Regions from separate parts of the Homo sapiens genome. Here region 2 is linked to region 1. Evidence: fine-mapped expression QTL. A gene starts in region 1. The other region holds a variant in brackets. All regions are shown on one strand. Distances are from middle to middle.

Region 1 (5,386 bases):
GTGCTCACTAACTACAAAATAATTCATTTAGCATAAAATATGCTAATTTCCTCTAGAGGTAGAGTGACTTACTTTTCCCAATTCTAGTTTGAAAAATTTCAGGGAAGGACTGTGATTAACCCAGCTCATGTTAGGTGTTCACTCTGAACCACCCCAAATGTACTCAACATTAGGAGAATGCTTAAGTACATTACGAAAAATCTATGCAGTGAAATATTCTGCAACCATCAAAGTTATGTTTATGATGCAGTTTTAAAATTTGATATGGTGCATTTTTAAAATTTGATATGGGGAAATACATGTTAAAATCAGGACATTAATTAACTTTACAATTAATCTCAACTTTGTAAGAAAAAAGATTAGAATGAAACATATCAAATGTATTTCCAAAATACCTAATAGTTACTACTTCTGGCTTATGCTTATTTTACCCTCTTAATTTTCTGTGCATACGTTTTTTCCCCTACAATTAGCTTATATAACTTTGAAAACAAGGGAAAAAATTTTAAAACTCTGCCTGTCACTTTCCTAGCTATTGTTAATAGCCTCCGCATGGTCTTCTAGATGCCAAACCACCCTTCACACAACTGCAAAAAATTATCTCACTGAAATTCATGTCTAATCATGGCACACTCCTATTTTTAAACCCTATTTGGTTTCTCATAACCAACACAGTAAAGTCTAGACTACAGCATCCTTCACAGTAGCCCCATCTACCTGCCCAGTTTGCTCTTCCACTGTAGCTCCACCAGGCACTTTATATGATCGCAACCCAAACTATTCAGTTTCCCAAATACATCCTGCACACGCCTTTACCCTTCTGCACTGTTGCTCATTCCATCCAGAAAGCAGCATAAAATTGTCTCCTTCTCCTTCCATTCTTACCTTAAGAACAATCTTCATCTACCCAGGAAAGTCACTTTCTTTGCCCAAGTATGAAGGCCTCAAGAGGAATGAGGGAAGAAAGGGGAACTCACCTGCTCAGTCAGATCAACTGAATCAACCCTGAATCAATGCTGCTGATCAGGGCCCAGCCGGATCACCTTCACTTTCCTGGTTACCAAGCTCCCTCCTTCAAACACCTCTCCCCGTTATTCAAACAAGTGTACTTTTGAAGTACTCGTACTGAGTATTGTGCCCAGTACATAGCAAGCACTTGGCAAAAATGTTAGCTGTCGTTATTGCTATCAATATCAACAGGCCTTCCTAACTAGCATGCAAAAGTATTCTGAAGTTCTAGAACCCAAATCATTACAATTCATTACAATCTGTCCCATATCAGTTTGTGAGCTTAAAGTCTGGCTTAGCACCAGGCTATAGCTGTTGATTCAATGACAGATGTATAAGCCTCCTTTGAAAAATCATCCTTTCTTCGGTGAGCTCTACTCCCATTAATTCCCTTCCTATGTGCAGCTTAGTGTTCTTTACGTCTCCAAAATATACCTAGGTGTTGGGAGGATTTTGTTCCCAATGACTTTATTTGAAATAAACACCCTTTTATCAACCATCAGCCTTGTTTCCAGGAATGTGTTCCTTGTGTTTCTTTGTTCGAAGTTGCTGACCAGCAGCTTATCACACAATAATAACAAGCATTAAGCAGTTATAATGTGTCAGACACCCACGTAAGTTATGTTTTACCTACATTTATCTCATTTAAGATTCACAATCTTTCCCGCTTTACAGGATCAGAAATTCAGTGATTTACCCGATGTGGCAATGTGACAACTTAGCCAGCGTGGCCAAGTCAGAACTTGAACCTAGGTCCATCTCACGCCAAAGCCCATGTACTTGAACATCGCACCATAGAAATCAAGCCGAATAGTAGAGGACTGGAGGGAGGGTATCTCCTTCAAATATTCAGGGCATCTTAGGCTAGAAAGCCTGAGTCTACTCAGCATTCAATACAGACCAAATACTATCAGTGCCATGGTTTCACCATCTCCTTCAGGCATAATTGGTCACTTGCCCTCATGCAATTTTTGTACCTCTATACAATAGTTTAGATCACTCACTTCCTTAGGTGCTTATAATTAGCTGAGTGTGTGTCTTTCTTAAGGGCAGCGATCTTTTCTTACTCATCTCTTTATTCCTTATTCTGTGTAGCATAGGGCCTTGCATATTCAATGATTGTTATTTATTTCAATGCTCGTTATTTATTTGGACACTCCTGCAGATCTATAAAGAGACCACAAAGTTCCAAAAGAAAATAATCTACATTCACAAAGTAAATGAAGTATGTAGGAGATGCACTTGCTTCATTAATTTATTAATAAATACACAATGTGCTATTGAATAAAACTTGAAACAACTAAACATCTAGAAAGTTGGAAAATATTAAAATTACGTGCCTTATTTTAAATTTTAAAGTCCGAATATTCCTTGCTTCTAGTAAATTAGCAGAAAACAGCTCAAGAGATTGTTACACCCTCTATTCCTAAATCATGGCGATTGGGAAGAAAAAAGTGAAAGATGAGAGAGAGAGAGAGCAGAGACCCTTGGCATATAGTTGACACCCAGTAAAAAAATTTTAAAATAAAAGAAAATTGCTTTTAGATCCCAGGTTTGTAACCCCTTATCATCTCGTTCTAGGAGGTAACAAGGAGTTACTAACTTGGGATCTAAAAGCAATCCTAAGGCTTGAGGCCGAGAATGAGATGTAAAAGGACTCCTGAAAACTACATTTCCCATGATGCCCGTCTCCCCACGCAACCGCGGCCGCGACGTCGCTCCCATGGCAACCCAGAAGGCCTCACTCCCAGACTCCTTGCGGAGCTCGCCGCCTGATTCTAGGCTGGTCACTACTCCGAGCCTGTGACGTTTGCGGCAGCCAGGCCGTCGACGATGCCCAGGTATTCCCTGAACCCGGCTTGCGTGGGAAAGGCTACTGAGAGTATTCCTGGAGAGAGGAAGCCCAGGCGGGACCAGCTGTTGGAAGATTGTGGGGGTGGCTACTTGCCACCAGGATATGCAGGGTCGGGGACCTAGGAATCAGCCTTGAGCATAAAGATTCTGCCGCAAACAGGAAAGAAAAGAAAGTTCCCTAGGTAGAAAAGTGAGAGATTTGGAAAGATCAGCAACTCCACCCATTCAATGATTGAATAAAAGTTTCTTGCAGGCCAGAGACTACTTCCGGAGCAGGACATTCGGCGATGAGCTAGACCACAAAGCCTCCTCTCCCCAGGGGCCTCCCCTCCTGGTGCGGGGGTTCGCAGTAATAAGCGAGGGGAAACTTGGAAGGCACTGTGGAAAGTATAACATCACTTTTAAGGGGGGAAACGGGAGAGGGTTTGTAAACTATATTCTAGCTGTTCAATTCTATGATATTCATTTTAATTACCTGTTCACAAGATATTCCTAAACCTTTTCTCAACAATTTATGCTTAAGCACGTCGGGGAGAGGGGTCAGGGAGTGCATCACAGAGCAGGATAAATCTTTTTCTCTCCTTGGGATAGTGTGGAGAATTGTCAGCTTTCCATCAAGGGATAATTGGTTAGTTATAAAGCTATGGTTATACTTCCCGATTTCCGCAGGTGTCGTGGCTGACTGCAGCACCTCCGTCTTTCCTCTCTGCTAGGTATTTGGAAAGCAGATCCTCATATTTTGAAAGAATGTTGTGTAAATGAAGAGCAAACAGCCCGAAACTGAGTTCTGAAGGCTCACCTGTGAAATAAATGCATGAATTTTAGTGCAAACATTTAAGGACTCCTGTTTTGACCCTTTTTCTTATTCCTGGTTCTTGAATAGTATAATTACAAGCCCTCAATAATTTTTGTAATTGTATAGGCCATGCCCTAAACTACATATATATTTTAACAATTATGACAATCCTATAAAGCTGATACTCTTTTTTATTGGCTTTTTAGAGATAGAGAAACAATTGAGCCTGGGGAATAGCACAGAGGATTGCATATATTAGGTGCTCAATAAATATTTGTTTAATTAATAAAGGAATGAAGGATTTAAAGAGGTTAGGTAGTTTTCCCAAGTTCACATACATAGGAAGTAGCAGAATCAGGCTAGGACCTATCAGGTCTTGCCCATGGTTAGTTTTTAGTTTAATATTCCATTTTCACTTAGGCTTTAATTAATATATATATGATTTTATCGTGTAAAGTTATATATCTGTGTAAAGAAATCAATGAAAGGATTGTTTTCAAAATGTTTGTGGTTTTAGGGTTTTTTTTTCTTTCTTTCTTTATGGTTTTTTTTTGGCGGGGGGAGACAAGGTCTTGCTGTGTCACCCAGGCTGGAGTGCAGTGATGTCAACATGCTTACTGCAGCCTCGACCTCCAGGGCTCAGGCAATCCTCCTGCCTCAGCCTCCCTAGTAGCTGGGACCACGAGTGCATGTCACCACACCCAGCTAATTTCTTTTCTTTTTCTTTTTTTATTTTCTTTTTTTTTTTTTTAGACAGAGTCTCGCTCTGTTGCCCAGGCTGGAGTGCAGTGGCACGATCTTGGCTCAATACAACATCCACCTCCTGAGTTCAGGTGATTCTCATGCCTCAGCCTCCTGAGTAGCTGGAGTTACAGACACCCGCCACCACACCTGGCCAATTTTTTTTTTTTTTTTTTTTTTTTTTTTTTAGTAGAGATGGGGTTTTACCATGTTGGCCAGGCTGGTCTTGAACTCCTGACCTCAAGTGATCCACCCACCTTGGCCTCCTAAAGTGCTGGGATTACAGGTGTGAACCACCACTCCCAGCCTCAGCCAATTTTTTTTGTTTGTTTTCTTTTCTTCTTCTTCTTTTTTTATACTTTAAGTTCTAGGATACATGTGCACAACGTGCAGGTTTGTTACATATGTATACATGTGCCATGTTGGTTTGCTGCACCCATTAATTCATCATTTACATTAGGTATTTCTCCTAATGCTATCCCTCCCCCATGCTAATTTATTAGTAGTAGTAGTAGTAGTAGCAGTAGTAGAGATGGGATCTTCCTGTATTGCCTAGGCTGATCTCAAGTGATCCTCCTGCCTCAGCCTCCCATATACTTTTATATTAAACAAAATTTTTTTTTACCTAAAAACATAATCTAAAACACAAAAAAGAAATGTTTCAGGGAGGAAAGATTATTTGATACACTGGTTTTGTACTTTTCCCATCTTCCTAGGTGACTTAAATGTTTGTGGTTTTCAAGTTGTACATTCCCAAAGTCATTGTACCTCCATATGTGTCTGAGAAGCTGACATACACAGCTATGAACCGTAGGGGAAGACCCAAATGTGACAGCCTCAAATCCTGGCAATAAAGGCTCTGCTTATCAATTTCAGTATTCTTCAGAGAACTAGTTCAAAGCAACAAAAGAAAAATAAAATCATAGAATGACTAATCCTCAGATGTTTTACCAGATTATTGTTCCTCAGAAAATAATGTTCATTTGT
Region 2 (5,386 bases), 35 kb after region 1:
GGCATGACCTCGGCTCACTACAACCTCCGCCTCCCGGGTTCAAGCAATTCTCTGCTTCAGCCTCCTGAGTGGCTGGGATTACAGGTGCCTGCCACCACACCTGGCTAATTTTTTTTGCTTTTTTAGTAGAAACGGGGTTTCACCATCTTGGCCAGGCTGGTCTTGAACTCCTGACCTCGTGATCCATCCGCCTTGGCCTCCCAAAGTGCTGGGATTACAGGCATGAGCCAGTGCGCCTGGCCTAGATTTTTCTAAAAACAAACAAGCAAACTTAGATTTTAGTTTTATTTGATAAAATGAGACGTTGTACAGAATCTGTCCTTATATGAGTAAACTTATATATGCTAAGCACTAGATCGAAAGCCCCAGCAACTTCTCAGGTGGCAGTCACGTTGTTGCGAGGGTAACCTGAAAACAGCTGTCAGCTGGGAGTAGGAGCCAGGGTTTTTTTCTCAGTATTCACCTTCGGGGGCTGTTGGAGAAGTAAGCAAAACATTTTATGTAAACGGTCCAGAAGACTTTTGAAAAATATGCCATGAATATTTAGAGGTTTTATAGCTGTAGCAAAGTGAGAGGCATGTTGTAGAAACAGGAAAATGACCTTATGTAACCCTTATTATGTTTGCAGCCTGGCTATAAGGATTAGTTGGAAGTCATCCCTGATTAATATTTATCTAGGAGTCAATGATTAACTGTTGTTGTTGATAAGAATATCTGTTTATATTGTATAATGATCACTTTTATTAAGTTCATATACATCAGTATTATTAAAGGATTAGGGTATTTGTGAGCATCATGAGTTTTCACATTCAAATCTGTCTTCTCTAAATGACTTAAAACCATAAGAATTTTGTGTGGAAAAGGAAGGCAGCCCCACAGTACCCATATCACCCTTCATTCATCTCTTGTATCTCACTGCCAGCAGATCACCAATTCCTGTCATCTCTTGGTTCGAGATTTTTTTTTAACCTACCTGAAAAGTTATGCTGTCCTAAGTTTGCCTCTAAACCACTTTTATTTGTGTGGTTTTAGACGAATTGATTCCAGATTGCACACACAGGACCTTAACATAATTTTATGCTTTAGCTGTAAAGATACCCTAACAATTACCAGTGTTGTTGCTGTTATTTCATTGATAATCCGAATCTAAATTTTGACATTCTACTATATAAAATTTTTAATTTGAATATTATTTCATACTATTTCATGAGTAGTTGTGAGACCTTAAGTTGTTTCCAATTGTGTGCTGTGAAGTCAGTCCTCAAGGATCTGAGGATTGGTAGGAAGACCCCTTTCATCTTTCCTGCAGACTTAGGGTCTTTCGTGATTAGCCCTCTTTAATTATTTAAAGTTCTGTCTTTTGCCAGACTTCACATGGGCACCAGAAAATACTTAAGTAGTATTTTCTGTTTTTTAAAAGTCCTCTAGCTTTAGAGCATTCCCGATTTTAAGGGAATGCGAATGTGGAAAGCACTTGCTGAGCCCTTCTACCTCTTTTGTGTTTTTTTCTTTTTCTTTGATACTGTGTCTTGCTCTGGCATCCAGGCTGGAGTGCAATGGGGAGATCATGGCTCACTGCAACCTTGAACTCCAGGGCTCAAGGGATCCTCCCATCTCAGCCTCTCAAGTAGCTGGGACTACAGGCACACATCACCATGCCCGGGTAATTTTTTTGTTTTTTGTTGCCCAGGCTGGTCTTCAACTCCTCGCCTAAAGCAATCCTCCTGAGTTGGCCTCCCAAAGTGCTGGGATTACAGGCATGAGCCACTGTGCCCAGCTTCTTTTCTATTATTTTTGTTAAAGCAAAAAAAAAAAAAAAAAAAAAAAAAAAAAAGGTTACAGTTAACATTTATTTTTAAGGTCTTCTTGGCCAACCACAGTTATCTTCGGAAAACTTTACTTGCTATCCCTTTAAAACATCAATGCATTATTTTGAGGCCGTATCATTGTCATGTTGAAGATCTAGTGGACTTGGTGGTTTTTGTCTCATATTGGTTATTCCTTTTTCTCCCTCTGGCATGGCCTGTGTGATAGCCCTAGTTTTCTCACAGTCTGCTGTCTGCAAAAGGGAGATACTACCAGCAAAGAATCTCAAAACAACATTTTCACCTTTGTCATTGGTAAAAATAATTTAACTTCCAGTTAAAGACAAAGTTTGCAGTAAACAATTTGTTTATTCTTTATGAGTTAATCTTTAAAACCGCAAGTGGTAGATAACTGGTGAACTGAATTAGCTTTATTAGAAAAAAATAAAACAAGCTGTAAAGACTACATATGATTATTACCATGAAAATTCTTCCTAGAATCCAATGAGGAAGTTAAAGGAAAAAAAAAAACACACAAGGAAAAATTCTTCCTAAGTCTATATACCATTTTGAAACATTTAACATTTAAATTTTAGTAACTTAGGGTATAGGTATGAAA[G/C]GTACGCTCTGCAATTTTTCTGAAAATTAGAATGGATTTTCTTTTCATAGCAACTGTGAACTTCAGTTATGTTAGCCAAAGGGCATTGATTGCCTCATCTTGCAGAGTAACCACGTTTTATTTGAAGTAGTGACAACCTTTGTACAGTTATTTAGACATTGAACAACATGTAGGAGGCCAAGAGGCATCCCCTTAGATGGTCCCTTTTACATGTCAGTTGCCTTGTGCAGGATAGCCACCTCCACTAAAATTTATTTATGAATTGTAAAGGTAAGATATACTCCTTGTGAAAAAATTCAAGAGCTATAGATAGATGTATATAAAATAGAAAATGGAAGTATCCTGCCCTCTCCCTATCTGTGTGCTTTTTTCATGTGGCACACATTATGTTTTCATGTGGCCACTGTTATTTTTGCTGGCTGCCTTGGAAGCCACCTGTGAATGAACGCTAATTATTTAATCAGTCCTTACTGGGGGACATCAAAGTTGTTTCCAGTTGTGCTGAGACAGAGCAATGGGTTTCCTTCTTTTACATCCTTGTGCATTGCTCTATTGTTATGGATGATAAATTTCTAAAAGTAAAATCACTGGGACAAAGGATACACACACACACACACACACACACACACACACACACTTTTTTGTGACAGGATCTCACTCTGTCACCCAGGCTGGAGTGCAGTGGCGCAATCACAGTTTACTGCAGCCTTGGCCTCCCAGGTTCAAGCGATCCTCCCACCTCAGACTCCCAAGTAGCTGGGACCACAGCGCACACCACCATGCCTGGATAATTATTTTTCTCAGTTTTTGTAGAGACACGGTCTCCCTATGTTGCCCAGGCTGGTCTCAAATTCCTGGGCTCAAGCAATTCTCCTGCCCCAGCCTCCCAAAGTGCTGGGACTATAGGAATGAGCCACCGCACCCAGCCTGGGTATGTATTTTTTAAATATTTTGCTAACTTCAACCAAGTTTTTGATTAGAGCTGAACAGCAAACAATTAAAATAAGATCACTTTTGAATACTTGAAGGATGACAGATGTCTAGTTCATTAGTTGAAAGACAATTCATATGTATTATGTAGTTTATGTACATAATTTTGTCTGAAAGTTTAATAAATTCATCTCTGAGTGCTGCTTAGCCACACAGAAACTCTGAAGACAGTATTTCTAGAAAATAAGTCCTAAGCATAATCATTTACAAAATAATTGGCAAGAAATATTTAGAATGATAATGCTACTAAGGATTCATTGATATATCTAAAAAATGAGAAGGCAGTTTTAAGGTGCCTCCTTGAATTAGTAAAGTTGATTTTTCTTAAAGTGATACATATTTTTGTTTTAGGAACTGGAACAGTACAAAAGAAGTTCTTCCAAGTCTTGGAAACAAATCGAGCTTGATTCTTGAACCTATTTCAATTATTGTATATTTATTTCTTCTTTTCCAAATACAAATAAGATTATACTGTGAATTAACTATTGTGGCAATATGTGAAGAAAGTTAAACTGTATAATTTGTTAAAGGACAAGCTGGATTTCTTGGACTAGTGCATCTCCCTGTATATCTTGAAGCTTTTTAAAAGGAAAAATTATTGTAGAACCACGTGTAATTTTTTTTAAAATAAAAGAATCTTCTACTACCTACCTCTAACATGTTTAAGTGGTATATACTCAATTCAGCATGTATAAGTTTCTGCTTATATGTTTTTAGGAATATAAAAGTAAGAGTATTTGGTTACAGTTTTAAATGCAAGGTTAAGTGCCCACGTTAGACACATTCTTTCTAAAAGGCATTCTCAGCTGTAGCTGGGAGGAAACCGGAATTGGGTTCACAGATGTCAAAATTTTACTCTTAACAGTGAGGCGCAAGAAGCACCTGAAATAGGAGATGCACATTCCCAGGTCCCCACACCTAGAGTGTCGCCATCAGTGGTCTGGAATGGGGCATTTTTAATCAGCACCAATTTCACCCTGCTGTGAGACTGACACATTTATTTTAAATACCACTTTTTGAAGAACAGGCACATCTAAGGAGATATCCTATCAAGAAGCAGGACAAAACATCATGTGTTGCGGATAACCAGGATTATTTCCAAGGTGGGATAGCCTTTAAGAAGCCATTCCAATCTGTAGATGTGTGTACCTGCTAGCCAAGTTCATTTTGAGTAAGTATAATTGCTATGATTAAAAATGATTTATTCTATGTTCTTCCATGTCCACATACAAAATATATTGACTCCCAGCTTCAGATAAGCACATTTACTACCCCAAGGGAGTACTGTCTGAGCAGATAGCAAGCCATCTGCTTATTGCAATGAACTAGGACTTCATAAATTATTTGCAGTACGTATGGTTCTGACACCCTTGAGAACAGAATTTTCAGCATGTTTCCAAGGAACCTCAGTCTTTAGCACACGTTTCTTGCTGAGTGCTATGGAAAAAGAAATCCCTTTAAATTTACAGTGAACATTATGATCTCAGAAACATCACTGACTTGGTGGGAAGAAACAGCCTATTCCACAAGAGTAATAGGAATTGTTATTATGTAATTTGATTTTCTTACACATCACTGTCCATTTTTGACTTGAGACACAAACTGTCACATGTTGAAAGCCATTGTGTTTTTCTAAGGTGCTATCACTAACATTTAATAGCTTGAAGTCACGTGTGATGTCAGTTTTCCAAATGTTTCTGAGCTAGAATGAAATTCATCTGCATATGAATAGTAGAAAATGTTTCCACTTATGTTGTACACCCATATCTTTAGTAAGTTGAAATCAGTGATTTCAAAAGAGGTTCCTGTGGGACTCTCTTTGAACTACTTTAATAGATTATCATCTCCAGAATTGTCTATAACTGATGTGACATATATAATCTGTAAGACATTGTGTAACTATTACACCATAATCATCCATGTCAAAGACCTTTTATAAAAATTGACAATACTAGTCTGATAATTTACCAAT

Evidence for each region. PIP is the estimated chance that this variant, and not a neighbour inherited with it, causes the effect. A credible set is the group of variants that fine-mapping cannot tell apart.
Region 2: its variant is the best candidate, but not a certain one, in a credible set for the expression of DYNC2LI1 in tibial nerve (GTEx, PIP 0.51).

Annotation. Positions count from the first base shown.
Region 1 is chr2:43,771,298-43,776,683 of GRCh38, forward strand. It overlaps DYNC2LI1 (dynein cytoplasmic 2 light intermediate chain 1), which reads left to right and starts at 2,742. Exons shown (of 13, transcript NM_016008.4): 1 at 2,742-2,849. The coding sequence starts at 2,842. LOC105374571 (a long non-coding RNA gene) reads left to right here and starts at 2,856. Exons shown (of 2, transcript XR_940033.2): 1 at 2,856-3,249; 2 at 3,576-3,695. It also overlaps the pseudogene RN7SKP66. RefSeq lists an enhancer at 2,628-2,677.
Region 2 is chr2:43,805,940-43,811,325 of GRCh38, forward strand. DYNC2LI1 (dynein cytoplasmic 2 light intermediate chain 1) reads left to right here. Exons shown (of 13, transcript NM_016008.4): 13 at 3,766-4,071. The coding sequence ends at 3,828. It also overlaps a transcript of ABCG5 not described here. Among named protein-coding and RNA genes, the nearest start is that of ABCG5, 30 kb to the right of the region's middle. The variant G/C (reference allele first, on the strand shown) is at 2,425.